2 linked regions of the Homo sapiens genome follow. The protein of the gene in region 1 interacts with the protein of each later gene in a pairwise test. Each region holds a gene or a part of one and is shown in the gene's direction. Other genes may lie near its edges.

The links.
Region 2: the proteins of CYB5A (region 1) and UGT1A4 interact in a two-hybrid assay, tested with the Homo sapiens proteins (one large-scale study listed by BioGRID and IntAct).

Annotation. Positions count from the first base shown.
Region 1 is NC_000018.10:74,253,904-74,257,720, reverse strand, and holds part of CYB5A (cytochrome b5), read left to right. Parts: intron 1-867; coding exon of another isoform or gene 868-876; exon of another isoform or gene 877-1,782; intron 1,783-1,945; coding exon 1,946-1,980; intron 1,981-3,817.
Region 2 is NC_000002.12:233,763,450-233,767,266, forward strand, and holds part of UGT1A4 (UDP-glucuronosyltransferase 1A4 precursor), read left to right. Parts: intron 1-3,584; coding exon 3,585-3,716; intron 3,717-3,817. Other genes in the region: UGT1A8 (UDP-glucuronosyltransferase 1A8 precursor), read left to right, coding at 3,585-3,716; UGT1A10 (UDP-glucuronosyltransferase 1A10 precursor), read left to right, coding at 3,585-3,716; UGT1A9 (UDP-glucuronosyltransferase 1A9 precursor), read left to right, coding at 3,585-3,716; UGT1A7 (UDP-glucuronosyltransferase 1A7 precursor), read left to right, coding at 3,585-3,716; UGT1A6 (UDP-glucuronosyltransferase 1A6 isoform 1 precursor), read left to right, coding at 3,585-3,716; UGT1A5 (UDP-glucuronosyltransferase 1A5 precursor), read left to right, coding at 3,585-3,716; UGT1A3 (UDP-glucuronosyltransferase 1A3 precursor), read left to right, coding at 3,585-3,716; UGT1A1 (UDP-glucuronosyltransferase 1A1 precursor), read left to right, coding at 3,585-3,716.

The DNA of each region.
Region 1 (3,817 bases):
GGTCTCGAACTGCTGGACTCAAGCAACCCGCCAATCTCGGCCTCCCAAAGTGCTGGGATTACAGGCCTGAGCCACCATGCCCAGACTTTGACACACTGATTTAATTGTTAACCTCTTTTTACTGAAGTTGAACCTCGAAGTCATGGAGTGAACAGGTGGCAGAGCCAATCATAAAAACCATATTCTTTCTCCTTGTTCATTGCTGACATTCTTTGATAGTCACGTCCCTAAACCCAAGTGAGGCCCTCAGAGCACTGACCACTAAAGACCAATTACTTTTCCATCAAAGTGCAAAGTGGTAATTCAAACTTCCTTTAACTGTCAAGCATCCTGGGCTACAGAGCCAAGAAGATAATCAACAATCAAAAGGTGATACGATTATTTCAAGTTCCCCTCTTTAGAGTTCATGGCTGTTGCTGATGATGCTGGTGCCAGAGTAGTGTTTTAACCTTAGCGCTCTCCCATGGTAACCACAAAGGCAGCAGGAGGGCAGGTGGGAGGTTCCAGAGTTGTCAGCACGTTGGTGAAATGCCTGCCCTCATTTTAACGACGCCGTGGATGTTTGTGTTTGCCTTCCGTTGGCTGTTTCAAACTTAACTTTCTAGTTTGACAATCATATTTTACCTTCAGTGATTCTTTTGTTTCAGAACTGATTGTGTCCTCTAATAGCTAACTAATATTTTTGTATATTTTGATTATTTCTAGTAATTTTTGTTAATTTTATTCATATATACACAATTTGGAAAATCCTCTTGCTGTAGTTATGAATACTTTTTATAGATGCTAAGATTTTAAAATTGCTGGAATAGATAATAAATTTGCAATTTTATTTTTAAATGACTTACCTTTTTTCCCCTACTGTGTCAGGAACCTTAAAGGCGGTGTTTCAAGGTTGGTGGGTCTCATAACTGCTTTGCTTGCTTTTCCCTGAAAGGGGTCTGTCTTTTCACGGGAGTTTCTCTAACGTGCTTTGCAGAGTGATGCTTGCCTTACTGCAGGCCGCTGATTGTTTTGCTAATGCTTTTTATCTTTGCTTTGGGAAACTGCAGATCTGAAGCTGTCTTATTTATGGCAACTTCTGTTTGAGGCCCTAATGCTTATGTTGGTGTGGAACATCAAAAGAATGCTTCTTAACCCATTTTCAAGCCCCAAAAAGTTGATATTTCACTAGACCTTAGCTTTTCAGCTGTTGGAGAAGTATGCGTTTTTCCAGAACCATTGTCCATTCACTTTAGTGCTACTCAAAAGAGCTGCTCCCAGAAAGCTCTGGAGGATAAAAACAGGGCTTCCTTATCTGGGGATTTGCTGTTAGGCTGACAGTGACCAGCTGGTGACAAGTGTGACGCCGGGCACAGCAGTCCTGTGAGGCTGGTCTGGTGTCTTGCTGGTTCCGTCTGGTCAGAATTAAAGCAGCCCCCCGGGAAAGTTGGCCTAGAATGTAGAACTTAAAATGGCAGTCCTCTTTTTTCTTTTTGGTTCACATATATTTAATGTAATTTAGGTACACTTTTTTACATCTGTCAGATTTGAATGAAATAACTGATGTTTTTATTGAACATTGTGTTCATGCTTTTGAAGAATTAAACTGCTTTTTCTAAAGGTGACGTGGGATTGTGTGTATGTGAACATGAATGTCTGTTTTCAGTTTCTGCATTATTTAGATGCCTAGCGTGTGCAAGATATTTTATGTAGCATATTAATTTTGAATGTTTTTAAATTATTGAGGTTATGTCCTTAAGTAAATATAATGATTAAAATGTTTTACTCTGGAAGAAAACAAAGTTAGGCATTTTAGTGAAAAGAAGTTTATAATTTTCCCTTTCGACATCTTCTGAAGAATGCATTGCATAAAATATTGTGTTCTTATTTTCAAACAGGATTTTAGTCAATGAAATAAGTTCAGCATTCCCTTGAACTTACTTTACTTTTTCCTCTCGTGTTTCAGGAAACTCTTATCACTACTATTGATTCTAGTTCCAGGTATGTGGTAGCTTTCTTTTAAAGCAGTAGTGGGTGGGAGGGCTCATGGGTCCAGGTTGGACAAGGTGCGTCCCCCACCTTCTGGGTTCCTGGGCCTGACACTGTGCTGTCTCAGCAACCTTCTGCTGAAGGCCAGACTGTTCAGAGCACTCAGCCTCAAACTTTCAGGTAGCCGACTGTGAACACTGTCCACAGCCACGTGATCTAGCTGGCTGGCTGCATCCACCCCAAGGAACAAACAGAACAATTGCATTTCCTTTTCCCCCAGGGCAGCATCTTAGGCGGCCAGTCCCACAGCACCTCCCTGGCTCATCCAAGCAGACATTTCCTTCCTTTCAATCCATGTCTGTTTCTTAAACTCTAGTGATTACATTTCCCTAAACATGGGTCAGTTTTCCTTTGTCATTTTTATTAGCTTTAAAGTTGAAGCTGGTAATCTATGTGTAGCACGACTCAATTGTTCTAGGCACCAGATTTGTTTATGATAGTCCAAGTGCACATTAACATCTTTGGCAGCTCTACCATATTGACTTCAGTAGTAGCCACTTTTTTGGACCCAAGCTCAAAACCACACATTTGTATTTCATCCTGTCAAATTTAACTGCCTCAGTCCGTTGGTGTTCTGGAATATTCCCTGCCTGCAGGCAGTATTTCACCTTACTCTTCATTAACAAGCCAGTTTCTTTCTAAAGTGAAATTGAAAAACCCCACCAAACCCCACTAAGACAAAAGTTACACTTGTAATTCTTATGAAAGTTTCACTTGTAATCCTTATGAAAGGATTATACTTGTAGTCCCTATGAAACACATATGTATACCAAGTCTATTTCTAAAGCCTACACATTAATTTCCATTTTTCTAAGAAATTAAGTCAAAGATCAAAATCTAAAGATTCAAATCTAATTTAAAGATTCAAATAGAGGCCAGGCGCGGTGGCTCACGCCTGTAATCCCAGCACTTTGGGAGGCCGAGGCAGGTGGATCACGAGGTCAGGAGATCGAGACCATCCTGGCTAACACAGTGAAACCCTGTCTCTACTAAAAATACAAAAAAATTAGCCGGGCATGGTGGCGGGCGCCTGTAGTTCCAGCTACTCGGGAGGCTGAGGCAGGAGAATGGTGTGAACCCAGGAGGCGGAGCTTGCAGTGAGCCAAGATCGTGCCACTGCACTCCAGCCTGAGCAACAGAGCAAGACTCTGTATCAAAAAAAAAAAAAAGATTCAAATAGAAATTATAGCTCATCCCTCCTTTGTCCCTGATTTGATTTGTAATCTGTAATTTATAGATCGAAATTCTATGCATCAGGACTGTAAATTTAGGCTTTTTTTTTTTTTTTTTTGGTGAATTTAGACCTGTGGACCACACACCAAGTAGTCTGGCCATTCTGTTTCTTAACCCTTTAAATCCACTTCAGCACAGGTAGTAAAGATTAGATTTTCCAAACCTAAGCTTAAAGCTGTGGTGTTAATGGCAGTGTTAATCATCACAGGGCCCATACTCTTCAACTTTACAGCTGGTGGGGCATTCATTTTTTGGTTTGTTTATTTTTGTTAGTTTGTTTTTGAGACAGTCTCGCTCTATCACACAGGCTGGAGTGCAGTGGCGTGATCTCGGCTCACTGCAACCTCTGCCTCCCAGGTTCAAGCGATTCTCCTGCCCCAGCCTCCCAAGTAGCTGGGATTACAATTAGCTACTGCCACCACGCCCAGCTACTTTTTGTATTTTTTGGTAGAAGGTTTTTACTATGTTGGCCAGGCTGGTCTCAAACTTCTGACCTCAAGTGATCCGTCTGCCTTGGCCTCCCAAAGTGCTGGGATTACAGGCGTGAGCCACTGAG
Region 2 (3,817 bases), on another chromosome or scaffold:
TATTTGAATCTAACAATTAATAGATTTGATTGTAACTCTCTCAGTTTACTTTATGTTTAGTTGACTTTGCCATTCTCCTTTTTCCGGATTTCTACTGGTTGGTCAAGTTACTGTTCTTATTTTCTCTTTCTTCCTTTGTTAACTAAAAATGCCACTCTGCACTACCATTCCTCTTGTGTTGATGGTCCTATTCTCAATACTCTTGATAAAACTCCTGAACTTTAAGAATAAAGATAAAACTTTTATTGCACAAAGAAGTCCATAGAGAAAGCACAACCTGGCATTGGCGTGTCTTTGGTGTGTCTGAAGGAAAAGAGATAGTGGAACAACATTGGGAGAAAAGGAATGAAACTCAAGAATTCCAAGATGTTCCTCCCCTGCCAGGGTAAGATAGCAGTGGTTCACAGACAATCGCAATGCTGGGTCTGAGAAAAATAACTAAACAGAAGATTAGTGAGGACCAAGGCTTCGAGATGGCCAGGAGAGGAAAGCTTGGGAGCAGGGAAGGTTGAGATATATGTGGGTTACTGGGAATGCGTGATGGTGAAGTCACAGATGACCCACATGGTGTCTAAGTGCTAAAGAAGAATTCTGGGAAAATGAAATGCATTTGGGAAGGGAAAATCTAATTAAAAGCCTAAACTAAAAATACAAAATTCTTGGTAAAGTTTAGGAGTTATGTTAAATGTCTCATTTTGGCTGGTGAAGTCTCATCAGAACAGGGAAATTCTCTCATTCAGGGGCATCTCATCTTTTCTTTGAAGGGAATCAATGGTGGGGGATTGGAGTGTTATTTTCAGTTAATATGTTGCTTCACTCTTTGGTCATTCCGGTAACTGTGAAGTCAGGGTGAAGTTTAAGGGAAGCTTTGCCAAGTAGGGGATGGACTTCACCTTTATTGAGCCTCATAGTAGCTGGCTCAGGTAGGAGTTGGCCGTGATGACAACTTCTCTGCAGTTTGCCCTGCGTGAATCTCCAGATGAACTTTTGTGCCATTTAAACTTTCGTGATCTCCTGCTATTTAACTTCGAATGTTTATGGACCTGTGGGTTCAATTTTGTGTGAATCACATCCTGCTGATTGCTGAGTGGGCGTGTGGGAGGGTGTGCCTGGAGGAGAACTTAGACTCGGCCTTTTCCAGATGAGCTTCAGTGTAAGAGTGGGTTTCATGAAGAGCAAAGGTCCTAGGAAATTTAAGTAAGCCATTTACCAACGCTCAGAAGAAAGAACTTGAAGAGCACTTGGAAATGAGCTGTGTCTCCCCAAGAAAGAGGGAGAGAAAGAGGGGAGAGATGTGGTGCAGACCCTAGGGAGGAAGGAGTTCAGAAAAACCATCCTCAGGGTGTTCTTGCTACAAACCAAAAAATGCAGCATGGTGGTGGGGAGGATGACTCTGTCCTCCCTGACTTTTAGATGAGCCCAAGGGAAAAGGCAAAGACAAAGCCCTTAAGAGCCAGAGGACTCACGAGGGCCTGGGGCTGGTGAGAGTGGCGGGGAGAGAGGGCTCACCTTGGGAGAAGGATGGTCAGTGTCTGGGGCTTTCCTGGTCATGTTCCAAATCAGGCTTGGCAGGAGTCCTGCTGTGCAAATTGCGTTTGCTGAGCCCTGTCAGAGGTCTCCTGTGTCTCACATCTAGGGTGACCAGCATCCTGGCTTCCTCAGGACTGTTCAGGTTTTAGCACTGAACATCACATGTCCTAGGGAACCCCTCAGTTTGGGCAAGCCCTGCCACATCACACAATCATATTAGTGCCCTCAGTATTCTTTGCAAACATAAAACCATAGACTCAGTAATCCCATTACTGGGTATATACCCAAAGAAATATAAATTATTCTACTATAAAGACACATGCACATATTTGTTTATTGCAGCACTATTCACAATAACAAAGTCATGGAACCAACCCAGATGCCCATCAATGGTAGATTGGATAAAGAAAATGTGGTACATATACACCATGGAATACTATGCAGCCATAACAAGGAATGAGATCATATTCTTTGCAAGGACATGGATGAAGCTGGAAGCCATCATCCTCCACAAACTAACACAGGAACAGAAAATCAAACACCGCATGTTCTCACTCATAAGTGGGAGTTGAACAGTGAGAATGCGTAGACGCAGGGAGGGGAACAACACACACCAGGGCTTGTGGCGGGGTGAGGGGTGAGGGGAGGAACTTAGAGGATAGGTCAATAGGTGCAGCAAACCACCATGGCATATGTATCCCAGAACTTCAAGTAAATAATAATAATAATAATTAATAATAATAATAATAATAAATAAACCCATAAAGCCATTTGAGAGATTCTTGGGGGATTCATTGGACCACTGAAAATCTACAGTGAGAAAAGAATTGCCATGTTGATGAAACAGGAAAACTTTCCTTGTCCCCCTCACAGAGCATGTGACAGCGGGAGGGGCTCACTTTCTCAGTGCGCCACTGCTCAAACCTCTAGGGGAGCATACAGACGGGCAGGTTGTGGGGCTCTGACCTCACCGGCAGTGTCTAGAGGTGGATGTTTACAGCTCCTGAAGCTCCAGTGGGCGTGGGTTATGGCCTTCTTTTAGTTTTGCCCTCTATAGTCAGCTTGTGTTAACCAGCTCAATTACACCCTCTACCTTGTCGCAAGGACAGAGGGCTTTCTGTATCCTGGGGGCTTGCCTTGGTGTACCAGAAGAATCGAATCCCACCTGGGCTTGGAGAATGAGTGCAAGGATTTATTGAGTGGATGTAGCTCTCAGCAGATGGGGGAAGCCAGAAGGGGATGGAATGGGAAGGGTTTCCCCTGGAGTCAGACCGCTCAGTGGCCCGGGCTCGGTGGCCCGGGCTCGGTGGCCTGGGCTCTCCTCCGACTGCCTCAGCCAAACTCCGCGTTGTTCTGCTGGTCAGTGGCCTGCCGGTGCCTGTTGGTGAGTTCTTCTCAATGTCCAGCTGTCCTTGCGTCCCTCCGCTGATGTGCTCCTCCCGATGTCCAGCTACCTGTGTGTCTGCCTGCTAGGGTCTTGGGGTTTTTATAGGCACATGATGGGGGCGTGGCAGGCCAGGGTGGTTTTGGGAAATGAAACATTTAGGCAGGAAAACAAAAATGCCTGTCCTCACCTAGGTCCATGGGCACAGGTCTGGGGGTGGAGCCCTCGCCAGGGACCACACCCTCTTCTACCCAGCACTTCCCTTCCCTACTTCCATATCATTTAAAGGGACCACGCCCTTCCCAGCTCTTCCCTTCTGTATCACTGATGCCTTGCTCTGTGTTCTCTAAGTGGAATTATCACTGTGTGTATGTACAGGTGTGTGCATGTGTGTGCATGTACCTGTGCTTTTCTTTTGGAAAACTAGCACATTACCTGGATTTTGCATCTCAAGGATAATTCTGTAAGCAGGAACCCTTCCTCCTTTAGAAGGAAGTAAAGGAGAGGAAAATGCTGTAAAACTTACATATTAATAATTTTTTACTCTATCTCAAACACGCATGCCTTTAATCATAGTCTTAAGAGGAAGATATCTAATTCATAACTTACTGTATGTAGTCATCAAAGAATATGAGAAAAAATTAACTGAAAATTTTTCTTCTGGCTCTAGGAATTTGAAGCCTACATTAATGCTTCTGGAGAACATGGAATTGTGGTTTTCTCTTTGGGATCAATGGTCTCAGAAATTCCAGAGAAGAAAGCTATGGCAATTGCTGATGCTTTGGGCAAAATCCCTCAGACAGTAAGAAGATTCTATACCATGGCCTCATATCTATTTTCACAGGAGCGCTAATCCCAGACTTCCAGCTTCCAGATTAATTCTCTTAATTGGAACCTTAGATT